Linked DNA regions of Homo sapiens. The protein of the gene in region 4 purifies or fractionates together with the protein of the main gene of each other region. This does not show direct contact. Each region holds a gene or a part of one and is shown on either strand. Other genes may lie near its edges.

The links.
Region 1: the proteins of SPZ1 (region 4) and NEURL4 purify together in Homo sapiens (affinity purification with mass spectrometry; 3 studies listed by BioGRID and IntAct, with this or other methods). This does not show direct contact.
Region 2: the proteins of SPZ1 (region 4) and DTNA purify together in Homo sapiens (affinity purification with mass spectrometry; 3 studies listed by BioGRID and IntAct, with this or other methods). This does not show direct contact.
Region 3: the proteins of SPZ1 (region 4) and SNTB2 purify together in Homo sapiens (affinity purification with mass spectrometry; 2 studies listed by BioGRID and IntAct, with this or other methods). This does not show direct contact.

What each region holds. Positions count from the first base shown.
Region 1 is NC_000017.11:7,321,645-7,327,341, reverse strand, and holds part of NEURL4 (neuralized-like protein 4), read left to right. Parts: intron 1-111; coding exon 112-177; intron 178-332; coding exon 333-631; intron 632-793; coding exon 794-905; intron 906-998; coding exon 999-1,087; intron 1,088-1,628; coding exon 1,629-1,701; intron 1,702-1,868; coding exon 1,869-2,133; intron 2,134-2,361; coding exon 2,362-2,543; intron 2,544-2,861; coding exon 2,862-2,947; intron 2,948-3,071; coding exon 3,072-3,234; intron 3,235-3,329; coding exon 3,330-3,528; intron 3,529-3,618; coding exon 3,619-3,695; intron 3,696-3,778; coding exon 3,779-3,857; intron 3,858-4,218; coding exon 4,219-4,394; intron 4,395-4,475; coding exon 4,476-4,607; intron 4,608-5,331; coding exon 5,332-5,477; intron 5,478-5,554; coding exon 5,555-5,697. UniProt on the Homo sapiens protein: Promotes CCP110 ubiquitination and proteasome-dependent degradation. By counteracting accumulation of CP110, maintains normal centriolar homeostasis and preventing formation of ectopic microtubular organizing centers.
Region 2 is NC_000018.10:34,716,086-34,721,782, forward strand, and holds part of DTNA (dystrobrevin alpha), read left to right. Parts: intron 1-5,697. UniProt on the Homo sapiens protein: May be involved in the formation and stability of synapses as well as being involved in the clustering of nicotinic acetylcholine receptors.
Region 3 is NC_000016.10:69,238,524-69,244,220, forward strand, and holds part of SNTB2 (beta-2-syntrophin), read left to right. Parts: intron 1-5,697. UniProt on the Homo sapiens protein: Adapter protein that binds to and probably organizes the subcellular localization of a variety of membrane proteins. May link various receptors to the actin cytoskeleton and the dystrophin glycoprotein complex.
Region 4 is NC_000005.10:80,317,350-80,323,302, forward strand, and holds SPZ1 (spermatogenic leucine zipper protein 1), read left to right. Parts: upstream 1-2,652; 5' UTR 2,653-2,866; coding exon 2,867-4,159; 3' UTR 4,160-4,493; downstream 4,494-5,953. UniProt on the Homo sapiens protein: Transcription factor that binds to the DNA sequence 5'-CANNTG-3'(E box) and the G-box motif. May play an important role in the regulation of cell proliferation and differentiation during spermatogenesis.

The DNA.
Region 1 (5,697 bases), on a different chromosome or scaffold from region 4:
CAAGTCTGTTGAATGGGAGAGCAGGAGCTAGAGGATGGGGGGTTCTCCTGGCTATGGGCCGTGAAGCAGGGACTGAACCCTTATTCCCCTCCCATCCCACCTGGTCCCCAGCCTTCATGGTGTCCCCAGCGCAGGCCCGGCCGGAGACGTTTCCTAACAGCCTTGAGTCGCATAATGGTGAGGGCTTTGGGGAGGCCCTGGGAAGGGGAGTGGGAAGTGAGGTGGACAAGGGAGGGCCCTCAGGAGAAGGGGTAGGGAGAGAGGCACCAGGTCTGGGGGTGTAGAGCCTCATCCCAACTTCCGAGCTTCCTTCTTCCATCCTGCTGCTATAGACTTTGCCAACATGGAGCTGTCTGAGGTGGTGAGCAACACCATCCTGTCTGCCTACAATGGAGGGCTCCTGAATGTGAACCTGAGCTCCCCACCGGCAGGGGAAGGCCTGGGATCTAGCGGTGCTGCCACCTCGCCCATTCTCACTTCCAACGATGCCCTGCTCTTTCATGAAAAGTGCGGGACCCTCATCAAACTCAGCAACAATAATAAGACGGCTGAGCGCCGGCGGCCCCTGGATGAATTCAACAATGGGGTTGTCATGACCAATCGCCCCCTTCGGGACAATGAGATGTTTGAGGTGTGCAAAGTCCTGTGGTCTGGTTGGCGCCTTATCCCTGGGAGCTAAAGATGGGGATTGACCCTTGGTGCTAGGAGGGTGGGCCCTGGGGAAGAACCAAGGGCTGAAGGTCCCTTTCTGCATTTACATTCCCTGCTTCTCCCTTCTGTCCCTCAATGCCAGATCCGTATCGACAAGCTTGTTGATAAGTGGTCAGGCTCCATTGAGATTGGGGTCACCACCCACAACCCCAACAGTTTGGAGTACCCAGCCACCATGACCAACCTCCAGTCAGGTACCAGCCCCGGGCAGGGGCGGGGGTGCAGGCCTGGTGTTGCTGAGGGGAAGGAAGCCCCGTACCCGAACCCAAGTGTCCACTATCACCCAGGCACCATCATGATGAGCGGCTGTGGAATCCTGACCAATGGCAAGGGCACCCGCCGGGAGTACTGCGAATTCAGTCTGGATGAGTTGCAGGTGAGGGTGGGGCACAGATCCCTGGGCCGCTTTCAGCAGAGCCACAGGTACTCTGTGTCCCTGCCAGGGCACCAAGCAGGGTCTCCTATGTGACCTAGAGGCAGTCCCTGTATCTTCCACCTAAAGGTTCCTTCCTAGAAGCCTGAGTTGCCCAAGAGTTCAGCACTCAGATTTTGGAGTCAGATGGTTGAATTCCTCTTACTGTTTTCCCATTTGTAGTAGCGAACCGGGGCAAGAAGCTTATCCTCTTTGATTGCTCCCCCACCTCCTGCAATCTCTAAAATGAGCCTACGAGTAGTACTTATTCCATAGGCTGAGACTTGTAGAAGCTAATGTCTGTGAGGTGGTTTAACTCAGTGCCTGACTCACGTGGAGCATTGACGAAATGTGGAAATTGTCATGTCTGGAAAACAAGGACCCAGGACCTGTCCTCCAGGGTGGTCTGAGACTCTCACGAATACCTTCTGGAGTTGTTCCTGTGTGGAGTGGGGTGCTGAGCAGGCCTCAGGACTCCTCTAAACTGTTTGTCTTCTTTGATTAGGAGGGTGACCACATTGGCCTCACAAGGAAGTCCAACTCTGCCCTACACTTCTTCATTAATGGTATCGATCAGGGTAAGGGCCGCCCAGAGAGAGCCTCTGGGCCGGGGCTTTCGGTGGGGCTGGGACTGGGGGCTGTACCTCATCCTCCTGCTTCTCTTTGGTGCTTGGCCTCCCTGTGTTTGACTTTCTCCCCTCATTCTCCCTGTCCACTCCCACACCCCCGTACCTTCCTGCCACAGGAGTGGCAACCCCCTTGACGCCCCCAGTGGTGTATGGTGTGGTGGACTTGTACGGGATGGCAGTGAAGGTGACCATCGTCCACAATAACAACCACAGTGACCGTCTCCGCCGAAACAACGCCATCCTGCGGGCGCTGTCCCCCGAGGGTGCTCTCCGCCGTGCTGCCCCTGCCGCCCAGGCAGAACCTGAGCGCCTGCTCTTCCACCCCAACTGTGGGCAGAAGGCAGCCATCACCCACGAGGGACGCACTGCCCTGAGGCCCCAGTATGGCCCATGGGGTGGGGAGAAGCCTGAAGAAGGGATTCTAATGGGGGGGGGGGGGCGGGGCAAGGAAGTGGAAGGCAGAGGGAGCCTGGCGGGGGCAGCTTCCTGGAGGTTGAGCTTTAGTTCTTTGGCTTGGGGCAGTGAGTGTTGGCAGGCATTGCTGGGCTAAGCCTTGGCACATTGAGAGCGTGTGTTGGGGATCTGACTCTCCACTTGCTGTGCCCTCAGTGCCACCGATGACTTCAATCACGGCGTGGTGCTGAGCAGCAGAGCCCTGCGGGATGGAGAGGTGTTCCAGGTGCGCATCGACAAGATGGTGGACAAATGGGCTGGCTCCATTGAAATTGGTGTCACCACCCACAACCCTGCCTACCTCCAGTTGCCCTCCACCATGACCAACTTGCGCTCTGGTGAGCTCCCAGGAAGGGCAGGGACAGGATAGGGTTTTGGGGGGAAGCTATCCCCAAAGCCCTGGCACTTGTTCTGCAGCTCCTTTTTCACTTGTCACTCTTGTGACCACTCATTCAGTGGCTAGAGAGTGTCCCGTGGGCAGGGCTGTGGCTGTCTTGGAAGCTGCAGAGTTTTCTTGTCCTGCTCAGGGAAGAAATCTAGTCATCAAAGAAAAGGCAAGGTGGACTGTGGGCTCGGGAGTCCTGTGGGCGCTGCTGTGGCAAGGAGAGGAGCCCTGCATTTCCCCTCATGTCCCCTCCTGCTCCTTGTCCTCCCAGGGACCTGGATGATGACTGGGAATGGGGTGATGCACAATGGGACGACCATCCTGGATGAATACGGGCACAATCTGGACCGCCTCAAGGTGGGAAAGTGGGTGCGCCGCCTGGCGGCCGCAGCGGGCATCACAAACACCGCGGGGCTGATGCAGGACCAGCCCCGGCAGGAACTCTGCCTGACTCCTCACTCCAGCACCCCCTTCTTCCAAGGCAGGGGACACGGTGGGCGTGGTACGGCGGGAGGACGGGACTCTCCACTTCTTTGTCAATGGGATGACTCAGGGCCCTGCTGCCTGGAACGTGCCCCCGGGCGTCTATGCTGTCGTCGATCTCTATGGCCAGGCGGCCCAGGCCACCATTGTGGACGACGTGGGTGAGGGCCGGGCTGGGCTGGGGCTGGGGGTTAGGGTGGCCTTGGGAGGTCTGAGAGACACCTAGAGACCTGATGGGTGATGTCCACTTTTACAGAGGTGGCTCCAGTTCCTGAACCACTCCCTGAGGGGAACAACCAGGTGTCTCCAAGCTCTCCGTCCTCAGGGGCCGGGGGCTCTGACCTGCGCTTCCATCAGCTGCACGGCAGTAACGCAGTCATCACTAACGGGGGCCGCACCGCCCTCCGCCACAACTGTCGCAGCGAGTTTAATGACGCCATCGTCATCTCCAACCGGTCAGTCTCTCAACTTTCATGTCCCCACCTTCCTCCTGCCCAGCCTCAGCCATGCAAGTAGAGCCTCTCTGATCGCCAGTCTCCTGGCAGGGCCCTGCGGGATGGAGAGCTGTTTGAAATTGTCATTCAGAAGATGGTGGACCGCTGGTCAGGCTCCATTGAGGCTGGTGAGGGCCGTCTGTGTGTGTTGGGGGCTGTTGGATGTCTGTGCCTTGGGGATCGGCCTTGACTTACCCCTGCCTCCTCCCAGGAGTGACTGCTATTCGGCCTGAAGACCTGGAATTCCCCAACACCATGACAGACATTGACTATGACACATGGATGCTGAGGTTGGGCTTCCTGCTTTGGGGACCAGCTTGGGGCTGAGTGGAGCTGGCTGGGATCAGGGAAGCAAGGTTTGGGCCTATGGTGGCTGTGGGTAGTGACAGACCTAGGGGATCTACCTGTCCCCTCCCCTTGAATTCTGGGAAGTCCTGCCCAGGCCCACAGGGGCTCAGTCCTCCTTCATCTTAGGCAGTTCTTGCTTTTTCCTAAGGGGATCCCAGGGACAGAGGAGATAGGATTGGGCCTTACACCCAGATCAAGACACCAGCCCAAGACATTGGAGGGTTCTGACAGACAGGGAGTGGGCAGGGGCCAATGTGAAGTTGAAGTTGGCAGGCTGACTCACCCCTTCTGCCATCCCCCCAGTGGTACAGCCATCATGCAAGACGGTAACACGATGCGCAACAATTATGGGTGTGACCTGGATGCGCTGGGCACAGGTGCACGCATTGGCATGATGCGAACTGCCAAGGGCGACCTGCACTACTTCATCAACGGCCAGGACCAAGGCGCTGCCTGCTCGGGCCTGCCTCCGGGTAAAGGTGACTATGTGGCTTTCAGCCTGCCACCCTCAGCCCAGACCACCTGGCTGTCAGGCTTCTGACCTTCCCTCTCCTCCCCAGAGGTGTATGCGGTAGTCGATCTCTATGGCCAGTGTGTCCAAGTGTCCATCACCAATGCCACCGGCCCCATGGACAACAGCCTGGCGACCAGCAACACTGCCACCGAGAAGTCCTTCCCACTGCACTCCCCAGGTGCGGCAGCAGGGCGGGGGCTGGACGGGCTCTGCTTGCCTGCTGTGCACCTGAGGAGTAGGGTTTCCAGGTTAGAGAGGTTCTGCAAAGACGGTTGGCTGGGGTAGCTGCCGGCTCCAGGGAAGGGACAGCCCACGGTGGCAAGCAGCCAGTGAGGGGGAGGTTACACCTGGTACTTAGAGCCTGGACACTTCCCTGCCACCAAGGGGCCAGGACACCATAAGCTGAGCATGCCAGGTTTGGAAATGGGCCTTGCTGTGGTGAAAAGAGGTATCAGGGCCGGGCGCAGTAGCTCACGCCTGTAATCCCAGCACTTTGGGAGTTCAAGGCAGGTGGATCTCTCGAGCACAAGAGTTTGAGACCAGCCTGGGAAACATGGCGAAACCCCGTCTGTACCAAAAATACAAAATGTAGGCAGGTGTGGTGGCATGCACCTGTGGTCCCAGCTACTTGAGAGGCTGAGGTGGGAGGATAGCTGGATCCCAGGAAGTCGAGGCTGCAGTGAGCCACGACTGTGCCCCTGCACTCCAGCCTGAGTGACAGAGCGAGACTCTGCCTCAACAAAATACAATAAAGAGGTGTCAGGAGGCCCTGAGGTGTAATGGCAGATGGCAGATGGGGCGTTGGCATCCCCATTTCGTTTCATCTGAAAGCTTTGCTCTGTGTTCTGCCTGAAGCTCGCTGCCCCAATCCTACCCCTTCTACTGGTGCCATCTCTTCACAGTGGCTGGCGTGGCTCACCGATTCCACAGTACTTGCGGCAAGAACGTCACTCTAGAGGAGGATGGCACGAGGGCAGTGCGTGCCGCTGGCTATGCTCATGGCCTTGTCTTCAGTACCAAGGAGCTGAGGGCTGAGGAAGTCTTTGAGGTAGGCCGTAGTGATGTGACAGAGGGGCTGCGAGGCCCATCACGACAGGGCCAGCTTATGTTTTCTCTGTCTCGTAGGTGAAAGTGGAAGAGCTAGATGAGAAGTGGGCAGGTTCCCTGCGGCTGGGGCTGACCACACTAGCACCGGGGGAGATGGGACCCGGGGCAGGCGGTGGTGGCCCAGGGCTGCCTCCTTCCCTGCCAGAGCTCCGGACGAAGAC
Region 2 (5,697 bases), on a different chromosome or scaffold from region 4:
CTTTAAAAATTGCATATCCTTGGGCCCTACAGTTCTACTACTAGGAATATGTCCTAACAAAATAAATAGTCTAACGTATTTACATAGTTTTTCGTTGTTTCAGACAATAGCAGTCTGAAAAAGAAAATCCAAGAAATATAGAAAACACATGAGCTCGTATTTCCTCTCTAGAAGCTATAAAGCTGTAAGAAGTCGGCCGGGCACCGTGGCTCACACCTGTTATCCCAACACTTTGGGAGGCCGAGGCGGGTGGATCGCCTGAGATCAGGAGTTGGAGACCAGCCTGGCCAACGTAGTGAAACCCCATCTGTCCTAAAAATACAAAAAATTAGCTGGGCGTGGTGGCAGGCGCCTGTAATCCCAGCTACTTGTGAGGCTGAGGCAAGAGAATCGCTTGAACCCAGGAGGCGGAGGTTGCAGTGAGCCGAGATCACACCATTGTACTCCGGCCTGGGCAACAAGAGTGAAACTCCATCTCAATTAAAAGAAAGAAAGAAAAAAAGCTGCAAGAAGTCATAGACATGGCTATATGCTGGTCTAACTGTTGACTTCCCAACTCTTTAGATGGAACATGTATAGGCAACATGGTGTAGAAAAAGAGTCTTGGCTTAAGAATTGGAATGCCTGAATCATGCTACTAACTAGCTGAGTTAATATAAATATGCAAATTTATGAAATTATTAAAATAATAATGTTAAAGAGTAGAAAAGTCTGTGAATCCCTTTACCCATGTATATGTGTTTGTCTTCACCGCTGATTTGCAAATAAGAAGTCTCATATCAAGTGGGAAGGGTAGATTTTTATAATTTCACTGAAATTCAATACCAAATGGTAAAATCTGGAATGCCTTGACTGTGAGAGAAAATAACAAAATATTTTAAATAGGGTATACATTCCAATTATTAGTTTTTGAAATTTATTCTAAAGAAATTTCTGCTCATATAAGGATGGGCAGAGGATAACTGGGCTTGAATAACTGGGCCACACCTACATTTAGGTGTGGTGGAGAGGCAGAGCTCCAGAGCAATCTGTTCAAAATTCTGTGATGCTGGAAATGCTCTATATCTTCTTAGTCCAATATAGTAACTACTAGCCACATGTGGCTATTAAACACTTGAAAGGTAGCTAGTGCGACTGATGAAACAGATTTCAAATCTTATTTAATGCTAAGTAATTGAAATAGCCACGTGTGTCTAGTGCTATCTTAATAGACAGTGACACTCTAGAATTAAGCACAACAAATAGGGTCTTTTATTTAATATCGGAGGTTAATTTCAAGCACCTCTGCTAAATTCGGATGATATAGATAGGACAAGAAGGTGAGTATTCTTTGTGCAATTTCCCTTTTATCTACAGAAATACAGATCAATGAAATCCTTTGATTCTAGTGACTGCAAGTCCAAGATTTTCCAGAGAAGTGTTGGTCTCAAGTAGTCTGTAGTTTTGTTTGCTTAAGAATTTTAATGCTCATTCATTTTCTCATTTATTTTTTTTAAAAAACCTTATATTGAATATATTTGTGTTGGACACTGACATTGAAAAGATAGTAGTAGTGCAGAGTTCCTTGATTCAGGAAATCCTTGGAGTATCCTAAGGAGTAAATGGTGCAGAGCAGATATTACAGAGGAGGGGAGAGAAAATGCTGTGTGGAGAAGGAAGCACTGGGATAAACCTTAAAGAAATGGCCAGTGTTCAATAGGAAGCTGGGGAAAGGAGGATCTTGAGAAACAGAACAGTATGGGAAAACCAGGGAGAGATGAGAATCAGAAATGTCTGGAAATGTAATAATGGCAGCAGCACAGAAAATAGACTAGTGTGTAGACAGAAATGAGTCCAGAAGTTAATGTTACAATCCAGAACAAGTATGAGGGAGGTTATGAGCTAAGGGGATGAAAGTAGAATTTAAAAAGAGTAGATTTGAGAGGTGTTTTGTCTGTTGCTTCTCTTTACAATAAGTCAGGTAGAGAACAACTGATTTATCTTTTAAGCCCCCTTGAAAATTGTCGATTACTGCATACAATGCTGGAGCAGGATTTTTGTGGCCAAGGAAACTGAGCGTATCTTACAATATGCAAGTTTTTCAAACAGGACCAACTTACATAAATCATCCTCTTGGAAGTAGGCGCAACTACATCATGTATGTAGTTGAAATGTATGACACATGACAATTTTGTTTGGGGATGTAATGTAACTGAGGTGGAAACTTAATATTTATGAGACTTCCTCTTTCGTTAAAATCTTAACATTCTTTGATTTTGACAAATAGTGTTTTTATTTCTTCCAAAAATACAAGAATTTTAAAAGTATATAATTAGGCATCGTTTAGAAAGGTCAAAAAAGCAATCGTCTGTTGAATTTATGATTTGGGTACATTATTCTTCTCCAGTCTTTACCCCATTTTGATGGACTTTTTTCTCTTGGCAGTATATCCAGGTTCATTTATAGGTGGGAAGACAGTAGAAGCTGTTATTCCAGCATCAAAGCCCCCACTGTTTTCTAATAAGACGTTAGGTTTTATTTCTTCCAAAGCCTTATGATCACTGCAGTCAAAAAAAGAAGGGTGGAAAATGCAGAAAAATGGTGGAGGAGGTGGAGTATGGTCTTGGTCATAAAGAAATGAAAGGAGAAAGGTATTACTGAAGAGTATGGGCATTAGTCTGACTGTAAGGAGGACTTTGGCAGTAACTACAAGCCAGAGTGAGTGAGGAAAGAATAGCAGCCATTTGGGCAATGTGCTGACCATGTGTGGCTTGATACTAGGAAACCTGAACATACAGCAGGACAGAGAGGAGCACATCATGTGAGAGTTCCATGAGTTCTCGGATTTAAGAAAATAGAAGACTTTCTAAGTGCCAGATACTGTTCTAAGTACTTTTTGTTTAACCTATTTAAGGCAATTAACCCTTTTTTTTTGGAGAACAGTCATAGAACATGGAAATCACTGAAGAAATGTAAGTAGTGGTGGGATGCAGTGGCTCACGTCTGTAATCCCAGTACTTTGGGAGGCTAAGGTGGGTGGATCACCTGAGGTCAGGAGTTCAAGACCAGTCTGGCACCAACATGGCGAAACCCCGTCTCTACTAAAAATACAAAAACAAAACAAAAACTAGCCAGGCATGGTGGTGTGGGTCTACTGTAGTCCCAGCTACTCAGGAGGCTGAGGCAGGAGAATCACTTGAACCAGGGAGGTGAAGGTTGCAGTGACCCCAGATCGCACCACTGCATTCTAGCCTGGGTGACAGAGTGAGACTTCATCTCAAAAAATAAAAAAATAAAAAAATAAGTAGTTATTATCTCTCCATCAATCCTCACAACAACCCTATGAGCAGGGTACTTTTACCATCTTTATTTTACAGATGAAGAAATTAAGGCCCGAGAGGTTAAGTAATCCCCCAAACAGCATACAGTTAATCAGAGAGAGCTCTATTTAATCAGCTCAACTACTACGCCATCCTGCCTACTCTTAATCTATGTTAATTTTATAATATGTACAGAGATGATACTTGTAACGTGCTCACAAAGTGCCTGACATATAGTAAACCTGCAAAAATGTTAGCAATTATCATTATGTAATAAGATTTAGAAGACTTTCCGGTATTTATGTCATTCTACACCGACACTGCTCAGAAATAGTAACAAGATTTTTAGGGCAGCTCTGGATTTTTCTTATGTAAAGTGTAAAGAAAGCTTTGTTTAGGAGCATGCCCTTATAAATTGGAGAAACTCTTCTTCTACCCAAATACTGTCAATCAGTTTGACTGGCACAGTTGAAGTTTTTACCTCAAAGAATGGGCCTCATTGAAATGTTCTATATACTCATCTACATGGCTCTGACCTTCTGACAGAGAATGACTGCTGCTAATGGTACTAATAAGAGCAAATGGAATTCCCTTCCAAGCTTGGTATTTGAATAATATGTCAATTTGTTCATTGCCGTCTTACTAGGAATTAAATGCGCTAATATTTTTATAACCTAAGGGAGCTAGTGCGAGGTTGGCAGCCAGAAAAGGGAATCAGGCCAGAGGCTGGCCAAGGCATAGTCATGAGGGGGTGGAAGGGTCACAAAGTCAAAGTCAAGCAGGTGGACCCAGGCAGAACCCAACCAGACTCTAGAACAAAGTTAGGTTCAAAGTTTGGTTCTTATCTCCTTTCCCTATAATGTGGGCTGGTAGGGGTGGGTTGATTGTCATCCTCTGTACAAAAAGAATTGTATGGAAAATTAGCTGGCTCTGAAATCTAACTGAAATAAGAAAGTCAATAAAAGCATAATTAAAGATACTTAAACATTGTAGATACAGGCAATGAAAGAACAATGCCTCTGTTGTACTGGATTTCCAGCAGGGAATGATGCTGTTTGGGTTAAGACACAGGTAAGGCAGAGGAGCTTTGAGAATACCATGGCTCAGGAAGGAAGAAATGTGAGAAAGCTAGAGAGGTACAGGAGACTACAGAGGAGAAGGGAAAGGCAAAATCTGGATTCTGAGTAATCAGAAGTTGTCGTCTGCTTTGGTGGCTCCTATAGTTCCCTTTGTCTTCATCAGTGACCTGAGAATTCACAGGGTTTTCACCAGTAATGTCACTGGGCAAGTGTGCCAGGCCGACCACCCAATAAGAGGACAAGGAAGAGAGAGTGGAAGGATCAGCAGAACTGTCACCACTCTGATTCTGTGGTGTGGGAGCTGGGGATGTGGGGTGGGGAATCTCTCTCTAGAGGTTTGTTCTCTGCTGTGTTACTCCCATCTGTGATGGCTTTTTCTCCATGAGCTTAAATGGTGATGGTTTTCTTCCAACTATTAGGGAATACATTGATAATGTTAGTGATTCATAGAGTGTCTGAAATAATCTCTGCAAATGTTATGTGTAGTTGGTTATCTGGAGAAGTAACAAGCTTTTATCAACCATAATAACTAAATTTGTATGGTGATTTACTGTTTGCAAAATATTCAATTATGTTATATTTGAATCTCCCACAATCCTAGGAGGTTGATGACACCATCAATTCCTTTATAAGGATGAAGGAAATCAAGCTCAATTACTTTCCTAGAGGCACTGGGTTTGATAGCAAAGCACAAATTTTAATTTACTGGTTTACTAATGCATCCTGCTTCATTCAACACCTCTTCACCTTTAAAAGTAAAAATTGTCTCAGTGATAGCTATTTACCTTTAGAAAATGGCTATTACAAATAAAGAACTCTTACATTTACTCAGATTGTTCAGATTAAATTCTCCCTTTAAACATACTTTCAAGGTAGTTTATGTACACAGTAGGTATTTAATAAGTGTTAACTGCTTGATTATTGTCTCTTTGTACTCCTCCAGAGCAATCATTCTGATTCTCACACACTGGATTAAAAGGTTGTTTATTTTGGAGTAGAAGGGAATACTCTGCAATTACAACTCCCAACATGGGAAACTAATGAAAAAAAACAAACAAACAAAAACGTGACGCAGTTCTTTTTAACTTAAGAAAATAATCTAGCTTCTAACATATAAATGAGTAGACTTAAAATAACTGGACAAAGCCAGAAGGCAACAAGGCAGACAACTTATACTTAGGCAAAACTAATCAAAGGAAATTATCATGAGCCCCAAAACTACTCTGCTTCTCATATCCATGCAACACCCAAACAATATACAATTTTATCTTGCCTATGAAATTCCCAAGTATATTCCTACGTATGTGTTTGTCTTTGTA
Region 3 (5,697 bases), on a different chromosome or scaffold from region 4:
CTATATGCTAATAGCTCCCAAATTTATGTTTTTAGCCTACACCCATTTCCTGAACTGCAGACTTATATATCTAGCTGCCTGTTAGACTTGATTGTCTAATGTATGTCTCAAGTTCCTGATCTTTCTTCTAAAGCTGTCAAGGGGAACGCTATCCTTCTAGCCTTGTTCGGGACAAAAATCTTGACATTATCCTTGACTCTTCTTTTTGCCACCCCCTTATGTAATCTGATGTAGAATCTGACCACTTCTCACCACCTCCACTACTATTCCCCTGGTCCAACTCCTATCATCTCTCATCCCTGTTAACCTGCCAGCTGGTCTTCCTGCTTTTGCCTTGGCCTTCTTTTATTCTATTTTCAACATAGTGGTCACTTGCTCCTGAAAATCTCCCAATAGCTTCCTGTTTCAGAATAAAAGCCAAAGTCCTTGCCATGACCTAAAAGGCCGTACATGGTCTGCCTCCCAGCCCCGTTACCTTTGTGACCCCATTTACTACTCTGTCCCCCTCACTTACCCAGCTCCAGTTACTCTGGGTCTCCTTACTGTCTAACACTCCTGTTAGTAACTCCTGTTACTGTCCTAACACTGTCTCCCTGGCTGGAATGTTTCTCCCAGATATTTGCATGGCCAACTCCCCCATCTCCTAAAGTCTTTGTTCAAACATCTTATTAATGGCTTACCCTAACTACCATATTTAAAATTTACAAACTGACACCCTGGGCAGCATTTCTGACCCCTTCCCTTGCTGTGTTTCATTTTCCCATTACACTTAACATCTTCCAATATACTGTATAATTTACTTATTTTATTTTGTAATTATCATACTGTACAATTGAATTTTTTCCCCTTAAGGTATACAGTTCTATGAATCTGGACACATACATAAATTCTTGTAACTGTCACCACAATCAGGATACAGGACCATTCCATGGTTTCAGAAAACTCTGTTGTGCTATCCCTTTATAATCATATCCCTTCTCACCCCTAACCCTTAGAAACCACTGAATTTATTTTTATTTATTTATTTATTTATTTATTTAGTCAAGGCAGGGTCTCGCTCTGTTGCCCAGGCTGGAGTGCAGTGGCGCAATCTCAGCTCACTGCAACCTCTGCCTCCTGGGTTCAAGCCTCCTGCCTCAGCCTCCTGAGTAGCTGGGCTTACAGGCGTGCACCACTATGCCTGGCTAATTTTTGTTTTTTTAGCAGAGGTGGGGTTTCACCATGTTGGCCAGGCTGGTCTTGAACTCCTAACCTCAAGTGATCTGCTCACTTTAGCCTCTCAAAGTGCTGGGATTACAGGCATGAGCCACGACGCCTGGCTAGAAACCACTGAATTTTTCATCATATATTTTTTTCTTTTCAATAATGGGGTCATACAACTTTTGAGACTGGTATAATGCCTTTCAGATTCATCCAAGTTACTGAGTTATAAATAGTTTGTTCCTTTTTATTTCTGAATAGTGTTCTATTCTATAGCTGTATCACAGTTTATCCATTCACTTCCATTGAAGGAAATTTGGGTTGTTTCCAGCTGTGGTACTTACGAATAGAGCTGCTAAGAACATTAGTGTACAGGCTTTTGTGTGAATGTAAGTTTTCATTTCTCTAGAATTTCATTAAATTATTAATTACATTATTATTTTTTGCATATTTTATTCACTGGCTAATAATTCTACATGCCTAAAACAGTTCCTGGTATATAGTAGGAGCTCAATAAATTAGTGAATTTGCTATGTTATTTTAGAATGAAGAGGAAGAGTGAAAGAGTCACTCTGAACTCATTCAAGGTTCATGTCACCAGACTCTAGACTGCAGTCTACTCAAACCCCAAATGGCCAGGAGACTTGAGCTGAAAGACACCTGCAAGTTGAGAATGTAAAAGGCTTTTTACTCAAAGCAAAGCAATTCCTTCCTCGTGTTTTTGGTGGTCATTTATCAGCCTCCTGACTTGAGAGAAGAGCTTGGGATGAGGTTGGAGAGAATCCTCCTGAGAGAATACTTTAACAGTGACTGTCAACATAACTCATTCCTGTGCAAAATGCACAGCCAGATATTCCACTCTGAGAATAATCCAGGAACAAACTTGCTTGCAAAAGCAGGGGAAATAATGTTGTGTGACTAACTTAGTTTCACTTAAACTCATAGTAAAGATCACCAGTTGGGGCATGGAAAAGGTAAGAGTTAGAGATAAAAAGGAACATAACGATTATATGAGAAGTTGATGTTTATAAAAGAGGTTGATCCATTTATCCAAATATGTGTGTTTGCAGCCGTAGGCTGTGTCTGCCCTATTATGTATCCTTTTTGGATAAGGTTTTTGTTTCGTTTCGTTTTGTTTATTTGTTTGTTTGTTTGAGATGGAGTTTTGCTCTTGTTGTCCAGGCTGGAGTGCAATAGCATGACCTTGGCTCACTGTAACCTCTGCCTCCCGGGTTCAAGCAGTTCTCCTGCCTCAGCCTCCTAAGTAGCTGGGATTACAGGTGCCCGCCACCACACCTGGCTAATTTTGTATTTTTAGTAGAGATGGACTTTCGCCATGTTGGCCAGGCTGGTCTTGAACTCCTGACCTCAAGTGATCCACTCGCCTTGGCCTCCCAAAGTGCTGGGATTACAGGTATGAGCCACCGTGCCCGGCCTGGATAAGCTTTTTTTTTTTTTTTTTTTTTTTTTTGTGATGGAGCCTCACTTTCTAGCCCAGGCTGGAGTGCAGTGGCACAATCTCAGCTCACTGCAACCTCTGCCACCTGGGTTCAAGCAATTCTCCTGCCTCAGCCTCCCCAGTAGCTGGGATTACAGGTGCCTGCCACCGCACCCGGCAAATTTTTATATTTTTTAGTAGAGATGGGGTTTCACCATCTTGGCCAGACTGGTCTTGAACTCCTGACCTCGTGATCCACCCACCTCGGCCTCCCAAAGTGCTGGGATTACAGGTGTGAGCCACCATGCTCAGCACCAGCCTAGATAAGCTTTAAAAAGCCAGGGTGGGCGTGGTGGCTCAAGCCTGTAATCCCAGCACTTTGGGAGACTCCGAGGTGGGCAGATCACTTGAGGTCAGGAGTTGGCAAGCAGTCTGGCCAACATGGTGAAACCCCGTCTCTACTAAAAAAAAAAAAGCCACTTAACAGGTGGGGTGCAGTGGCTCATACCTATAATCCCAGCCCTTTGGGAGGCCAAGGCGGGTGGATTGTTTGAGCTCACCAATTAGAGACCAGCCTGGGCAAATGGCAAAACCCTGTCTCTACTAAAAGTACAAAAATTAGGTGGGTATGGTGGTGTGCACCTGTAGTCTCAGCCACTCAGGAGGCTAAGATGGGAGGATGGTTTGAGCCCAGGAGGCGGAGGTTGCAGTGAGCTGAGATCATGCCACTGCACTTCAACCTGGGTGATAGAGCCAGACCTTGTCTCAAAAAAAAAAAAAAAAAAAAAAAAGAAGCCACTTGCATTCAGTTTAAAATCAGATGCTGCCTCATGCCCCAAACATGGAACTCTTCATAACCTTATTCATTAGAGCTTAGAATTCAGTAAGAATCAGTTGGATTTTGGATCCTATCCAGTGCATTATAGTTTTTGAAGCCTCAAGATTTCCGTTTACATGTCTTTCATGTTTAAAGTTTGAGCAACAGGCTGGGTGGTGGCTCATGCTTGTAATCCCAACGCTTTGAGAGGCTAAGGCGGGAGGGTTGCTTGAAGCCAGGAGTTTGAGATCAGCCTGGGCAAAATAGCAAGACCTTGTCTCTACAAAAAATTAAAAAGTTAGCCAGATGTGTCGGTGTGTGCCTATAGTTGCAGCTACTCAGGAGGCTGAGGCAGGATCACTTGAACCCAAGAATTTGAGGTTACAGTGAGCTATGATTGTGCCACTGCCCTGCAACCTGAGGGACAGAGTGAGACCCTGTCTCAAAAATAAAATTAAGATAGAGTTTGAACAAGGTCTCAGAATAAGTTTTCTTCATTTCTTAAATACGTTTTTAAAATAAATACTATGGACTTAACAAAAATTTTAAATATACAGAACAACATAAAGAAAAAAATGCAATCCTACACCTGTATATAAGCACTATTGATATTTTGATTAAGTTCCTTCCAGACATCTTTACAGGTACATGTGTGCAGTACATGTATGTGTTTTTGTCACTCTAAAGAAGAGAAGGGATCACAGTAATGCTTTTGGGGTGGGAGGAAGCCCACCTTCACGTTCAGTAAAAGGGATACGTGAGGCCGGGCATAGTGGCTCAAGCCTGTTATCCCAGCACTTTGGGAGGCCAAGGCGGGTGGATCACGAGGTCTGGAGATCGAGACCATCCTGGCTAGCACGGTGAAACCCCGTCTCTACTAAAAATACAAAAAATTAGCCGGGCGTGGTGGCGGGCGCCTGTAGTCCCAGTTACTGGGGAGGCTAAGGCAGGAGAATGGCGTGAACCCAGGAGGCAGAGTTTGCAGTGAGCTGAGATTGTGCCACTGCACTCCAGCCTGGGCGACAGAGTGAGACTGCATCTTAAAAAAAAAAAAAAAAAAAAAGGGATACATGAATGGAAGAAAGAAAATTAGCTTCAGCATCTGAACACTCAAAACAGTTTGTAAACATCAGTGTTTAATTAAATTATTTTGAGGATTATCTTCAACTATCAGGAAAAATGAAATGATTCTGAAATATGTTGTGGATTCTGAGTTGAACTGAAAGCTCCATGTGGGGGTGTAAAGGCTCTGCTTATCCAGCCACGTGTCCAGGTTAAGGCCTTAACATAGGACTGAAACAGAAGACTGTTAACTTTTTGCCATTCCCAAACATAGAAACAGATGTCCATCCACAGCTCTTCAGCCATTCTGGATGGCTAATTAGATGGGGGTATGGACTGCATTGCCATCAACTCAGATAAAATTCATTGCTCTTTTAATAAGGCAATACATAAATTGTATGTGTATGTCTGTTTTTGTTTTAGGATGTGTGTAGTAATCAGTTCAGTGATGCTACTGTGTGATTGAATGAACTGAGTAGATCGTTAAGGGTTCTTTTCTAACCACTATATTATTCAAGAATTCATTTAGAATGTCTTTAATTTCCTCCAGTTGGTAGCCCAATAGTGTACTGCCTTAAATGTTCAAAAAGCATGCCTCTGCCATTTGCAGTAACTGGAAACCTTAGGAATTTCTGCCAAAGTCCTTCAAAGCATAAAGCTGAAGTATGTATTGAAATGCTTGAGTCAGCTGCTCAAGGGTTATACTGACTGCACTCCTGCTGATTTTTCTAGGGTAAAAAAATCTCCTTGGTGACCTGAGGCAGCTACCCAGAAGCACGTGTATTATAACTATGCACAAAAAGCACAGAGATATACTACATCTAAATTCTAGCATTGGAATTGTTATATTTTTTATTATTATACTTAATTTCAGTAAATCTTTTTTAATAACGTATAAGAAAATAACTTTAACTCTTCTACTGATTACCATTAAAATTTTTTAACTCTTCTCTAACTTTCTAATTTAGGGAAGGAAAAAGAAAGGTACCTACTGTATTTATTGAATGTTTAGTATGTGCCTGAAATTTTTATTTGCTTAGTGTTACTCCCATTTTGTAGATGAGGACCTCAGAACAGTTAAGTGCGGTCACATAGCTTTGAATAGCAAGCACAGTTAGGATTTGAACAAGGTCTTCTTGATTCCAAAGGCATCTCTATGACCACATCATGCTGTAGAATG
Region 4 (5,953 bases):
TGTTTAACCTCCATGGTTATCCACTGGGGAATATGGGTCAATAGAGACAAGAGGACCACTCTTGTTTCTCAAAATCTATTTACCTTTCAGTTCCTAACGTAAACACATTCCAACAAAATTAACAACTGTTAATTGGAATTCATTCTAGTTGTAGGGGAAAGGAAATATTTAAATCCTTTTCAGATTTTGTTTTTGTTTTTGTTTTTTTCTTTCTTTCTTTTTTTTTTTTTTGAGATGGAGTTTCACTCTTGTTGCCCACACTGGAGTGCAGTGGTGCAATCTTGGCTCACTGCAACCTCCACCTCCTGGGTTCAAGCGATTCTCCTTCTTCAGCCTCCCGAGTAGCTGGGATTACAGGTGCATGCCACATGCCCGGCTAATTTTTTTTTTTTTAAGTAGAGACGGGGCTTCACCCTGTTGGCCAGGCTGGTCTCGAATTCTTGATCTCAGGTGATCCGCCCACCTCAGCCTCCCAAAGTGTTAGGATTACAGATGTGAGCCACCATGCCTGGCTCTTTTCAGATTAAAGAAAAAAATTATCTTCGTATCTTGACCATGCTACCTTCAAACCAGTTTTCATAAAAAAAAAAATCAAGACAAGAGCAATATTAGATTTATGTCTGACAGCATTAAAAAGCTGCAAGCACAAGAGGATGGAGAATACATTTTCTTTTTAATATCTAGGGAACATACATGAACACTGATAATCTATTAGGCCAGAAAGAAAATATCAATTTCAAAAGGTAGAAACATTACAGACATTTTCTGAATATAGTATGATAAAGCTAGAAATTAATTATCAAAAATTCCCCTGTGCTGGAGATTAAGAAATTGTCTTAAATGATGCTTGAGTCAAAGGGGGAAATAAGAACCAATGCTGAACTTCTAAGATGGAATTAAAGCATAAGGACAGTTGCTAGCATCTATGCTGTCATTGTGTGAATTAGAAAAGGAGTTCCTTTTTCAAGTAAAAGCAGAGACCAACCCTGCTGTATCTGTGAGTAGTCAGTGACGATGGCCTGGAGCCCAGCTGGCTGAAAGATGAGCATGAGGCTCTGGGGAATTAGAGCCAAAATGAGTTGGTAACTGGAGAAGAAAGAAAACATATAAATTTCTCTTCTCTAGGGGAAAAAAAACCTGAGTATGAGTTTTCCCTTAAGACTGGAAGCAAATTTCTATTAAAGTGCTTGCTAGCAAGATTTTGAAGGCCAGGAAAAAGTCATACACAAGAAATGTTTCTTTGATTGAGTTCTATATTCACAAGACCTGACTCCTAAGAACAAAAAGACAAGAAAGCAGCTTATTAAAATGCAAGAAGTTTAATAAACTTGTTACTTTCTATAACCCACTAGAGAATTTACCTGTTTCAAATGCTTTTTATTTTTTAATTTTTAATTTCTTTTTTTGAGGCAGTGTCTTGTTCTGTCACCCAGGCTGGAGTGCACTGGCACGATCTCAGCTCACTGCAACCTCCTCCTCCTGGGTTCAAGCAAGTCTCATGCCTCAGCCTTCTGAGTAGCTGGGATTACAGGTGTGTGCTGCCATGCCCAGCTAATTTTTGCATTTTTAGTAGAGATGGGGTTTTGTCATGTTGCCCAGGCTGATCCTGAACTCCTGGCCTCAAGTGATCTGCCCGCCTTAGCCTCCCAAAGTGCTGGGATTACAGGCATGAGCCACTGCACCTGGCCAATTTTTTAATTTTTTGTGATAGATCTTGCTGTGTTGCCCAAACTGGAGTGCACTAAGTAGCACAGTCATGGCTCACTGCAGCCTCAACCTCCCAGGCTCAAGTGATCCTCTCGCCTCAGCCTCCCAAGTAGCTGGGACCACAGGCACACACTACCATGCCCTTCTAATCAAACACTTTAGAAATATAACTATGTCATTTTAACAAGTTACTGTGTAGAGTGTGGAAATCTTAGGGGATCAATAAAAGAGCCAAAAAAAAAATCCCCAAATAAGTTACTGTGAAAAGTAATAGTCAAAGTTTTCTATCACCTGATGTAAATGATTTGTGAGTAAGCTTGCCAAGCCTGTCTTAAAGGATGCCTATATTCAAAGCCAAGAAAAGTCCCAGTTTGTAATTGTGTTGCTATTATAACCATTCAGATAGTCCCTTCTTGGAGCAGTAGAATATTTTTGAATGGAGGGACTCCTGACATTACTTTCCTAAAATCACAAAAGGCTGTCACTCTCAGGGTTTTGTTTTGTGTGGATAACTTTCTCTTACAGTCACATCTCTCCTAGAATGGGAGCAATAGAGCCTCTAGGTGCTATGAAAGGATGGGGACCTCACCAGAGAGGACTGGTCTCAGCAATGTCCTTAAGTGGTCAAAACATGCTGCGGTTGAGGTCAGGATTGTGAGGGGATAGAGGTGACGTAGAGAAGTAACTGAGTGCATTTAGACTGAGATGAATAGCAACCTAGAAATTAAGGAGGGGAAGAGCTATTGTAGAGCTCTTTCTGGCATGAGGAGTAGGGATAGCTCAAGGTTGGTTTTGATGCAGGAGTCACTGGGCAGGAATTTAAGAGGCTTCCATTGTGACACAAAGGAGACAGACACTATGGATAGGCCACAATGGTGCAGTGACAAAATAAAGACCTGGTTGCTAGGGCCAGAGAATAAACACCGGGTGCCTAGAGGAGAAGAGATGGAGCCCCAGCCTTGGTCCCCTTTCCCACCCTTCCTCCCCACAAGGCTGTCTGAGATGCCACCTTCCACCTAAACATCATCTCCCAAATTTTAATCCTTAACTTTGGTCTCTGACTTCTGCTTGATTCCACAGTCTCCACCCACATTTGCACAAAGGACCATCACCTGTCCTTCCTGGAATCTCTAAAGTTTTCTGCTTTCCTTCTGTCCTGATGGCCAGCTCTGCTAAGTCAGCTGAGATGCCCACCATCTCCAAAACCGTTAACCCTACTCCTGATCCTCATCAAGAATATCTGGACCCTAGGATTACCATTGCCTTATTCGAAATTGGATCACATTCCCCTTCCTCCTGGGGCTCTCTCCCTTTCCTAAAGAATAGCAGCCATCAAGTTACAGAACAACAGACTGCACAGAAGTTTAACAATCTCTTAAAAGAAATTAAAGATATTCTTAAAAATATGGCAGGTTTTGAAGAGAAGATCACAGAAGCAAAAGAACTTTTTGAGGAAACCAATATTACTGAGGATGTGTCAGCCCACAAAGAAAATATCAGAGGACTTGACAAAATCAATGAAATGTTATCAACAAACCTGCCTGTTAGTTTAGCCCCAGAGAAAGAAGACAATGAAAAGAAACAGGAGATGATATTGGAAACCAATATTACTGAGGATGTGTCAGCCCACAAAGAAAATATCAGAGGACTTGACAAAATCAATGAAATGTTATCAACAAACCTGCCTGTTAGTTTAGCCCCAGAGAAAGAAGACAATGAAAAGAAACAGCAGATGATAATGGAAAACCAGAACTCTGAGAACACCGCACAAGTTTTTGCAAGAGATTTGGTAAATCGTTTAGAAGAAAAAAAAGTCCTTAACGAAACTCAACAAAGTCAGGAAAAAGCAAAAAACAGACTTAATGTTCAAGAAGAAACTATGAAAATTAGGAACAACATGGAGCAGTTACTACAGGAAGCAGAACACTGGAGTAAACAACATACTGAGCTCAGTAAACTGATAAAATCCTATCAGAAATCTCAGAAAGACATAAGTGAAACTCTTGGAAATAATGGAGTCGGTTTCCAAACCCAGCCAAATAATGAAGTGTCGGCTAAGCATGAGCTGGAGGAACAGGTGAAGAAACTGAGCCATGACACCTATTCATTGCAGTTGATGGCAGCTTTGCTAGAGAATGAATGCCAAATCTTACAGCAGAGAGTAGAGATTCTCAAGGAACTCCATCATCAGAAACAGGGAACTCTGCAAGAGAAGCCAATTCAGATAAACTATAAACAGGACAAGAAAAATCAGAAGCCATCAGAAGCAAAGAAAGTAGAAATGTATAAGCAGAACAAGCAAGCAATGAAGGGTACATTTTGGAAAAAAGACAGATCCTGTAGAAGCCTGGATGTTTGTCTTAATAAGAAAGCTTGCAATACCCAGTTCAATATTCATGTTGCAAGAAAAGCTCTTAGGGGAAAAATGAGGTCAGCTAGCAGCCTAAGATAGAAAATACCAAAAGCAGATGAAAAGGTGAATCCTTAAAAAACTACATCTGTTACCTCCAACTTGTCAGTCATGATCAATCATCAAACCTTGGGCAGATCTGCTGGTTCAACCAAGAAAGAGCTATAGAATAAGGAGATTGACACTTATATTACTCATTACTTCAGCAGTTATGTAAGTCTGGTCTTTAATGACCATTGTGTCTACATCAAGTTCATAACTTTTCACCTTTACAATCTGCTTGTTTTTTTTGTAATTATTAGATAGACAGCCTAGAGTGAGAAGTTAAAGGTCCAATTAAGTAAAGATCTAAATAAAAACCAGAATACAAGGGAAATTTTTTTTTTCTTTATTTAATCATTGCCTGGGGGCAGGGGGAGTTCTGGGGGGAAAAAGTATATAGTGTTTTTGGCCAGGTGCAGTGGCATTTTGGGAGGCCAAGGTGGGAGGATCGCTCGAGGCCAGGAGTTTGAGACAAACCTGAGCAACACAGCAAGATCCCATCTCTAAAAAAAAAATTAAGTGAAAAAAAAGTACATAATGCTTTAGTTGTGACCTTTTAAAGCTCCCTTTCTAAATGTATGTTTCCTTTTCCTATTATACACTGAAGTGTGGGATGTGGGGGAATTTAAAAAATGCTGATAATCCAACCCTAACAAATCATTTTTCTCTTATAAATCTGCACTGGCTCTACTTTTCCTAAGGTGCCTCCCTTGCTCCTCTGCTAGTGAACTGTGGGCATACGGGGCAGCAGAGGCCCTTGGGAAGGACCCCCTCAACTTGTTTGGAAGAATAGAGACATATCTGAATTTTATTTTATTTTATTTTATATTTTATTTTATTATTTATTTATTTTATTTTATTTTTGTATTGTATTGTATTGTATTGTGTTATATATTTTTGAGGTGGAGTTTTGCTCTTGTTGCCCAGGCTGGAGTGCAATGGCACGATCTCAGCTCACTGCAACCTTCACCTCCCAGGTTCAGGCGATTCTCTTGCCTCAGCCTCCTGAGTTGCAGGATTACAGGTGCCCACACCACACCCGGCTAATTTTTCTTATTGTTTAGTAGAGATGGGGTTTCACCATGTTGGCCAGGCTGATCTCAAACTCGTGACCTCAGGTGATCCACCTGCCTTGGTCTCCCAAGGTGCTGGGATTATAGGCGTGAACCACCGTGCCGGCCTAGATTTTATTTTTGCTGGAAAAGTTTCTCCCATTCCTCCAGATATAGACGGTAGTGTTACCCAGGGGGAAAAAACAGTATCTTCTGTTAAGGGAGCTGGATTTCTGGTTCCAGAAAAGATGGAGCTGATAAATTTTCCCCTATTCTTCTCTTTAAGTAAGCTGAAACCCCTGGACATTATATATAAAGCAAATATAAGAAGATTCTGAAAGATGGAGAGAAGGAGGTAGAATGGTTAGGGACCCTGAAACTTAAGGAACAACATGGTGCTTAGTTCTCTGGGTTTTCTTTTTGCCTCTTATATATTCTGAGCTAGGTGCTGGAGAAGTCCACAACCTAAAAATGTCAATGCATGTAGACAAAAAAATTCCCCCATAAAGCCTGCTTTCTTTTGTCAACAGATGAGGAAAGGAACAGTCTGGTGAGACAGAAACCTTTTTGACAAAACTGCCCTAATCCAGCCAAATTGTATAGAAACATATTTCTACCCCCATCCCTGTTGGCAGATACTGAGTAGAGAGCCTAGACATTCATCCTTGCCTGGCAGTCATGAGGCACACCTCCCCTACTCTACTGGGATGGTGCAGAGGAGGTAAGAGTAGGGATCCTAAAG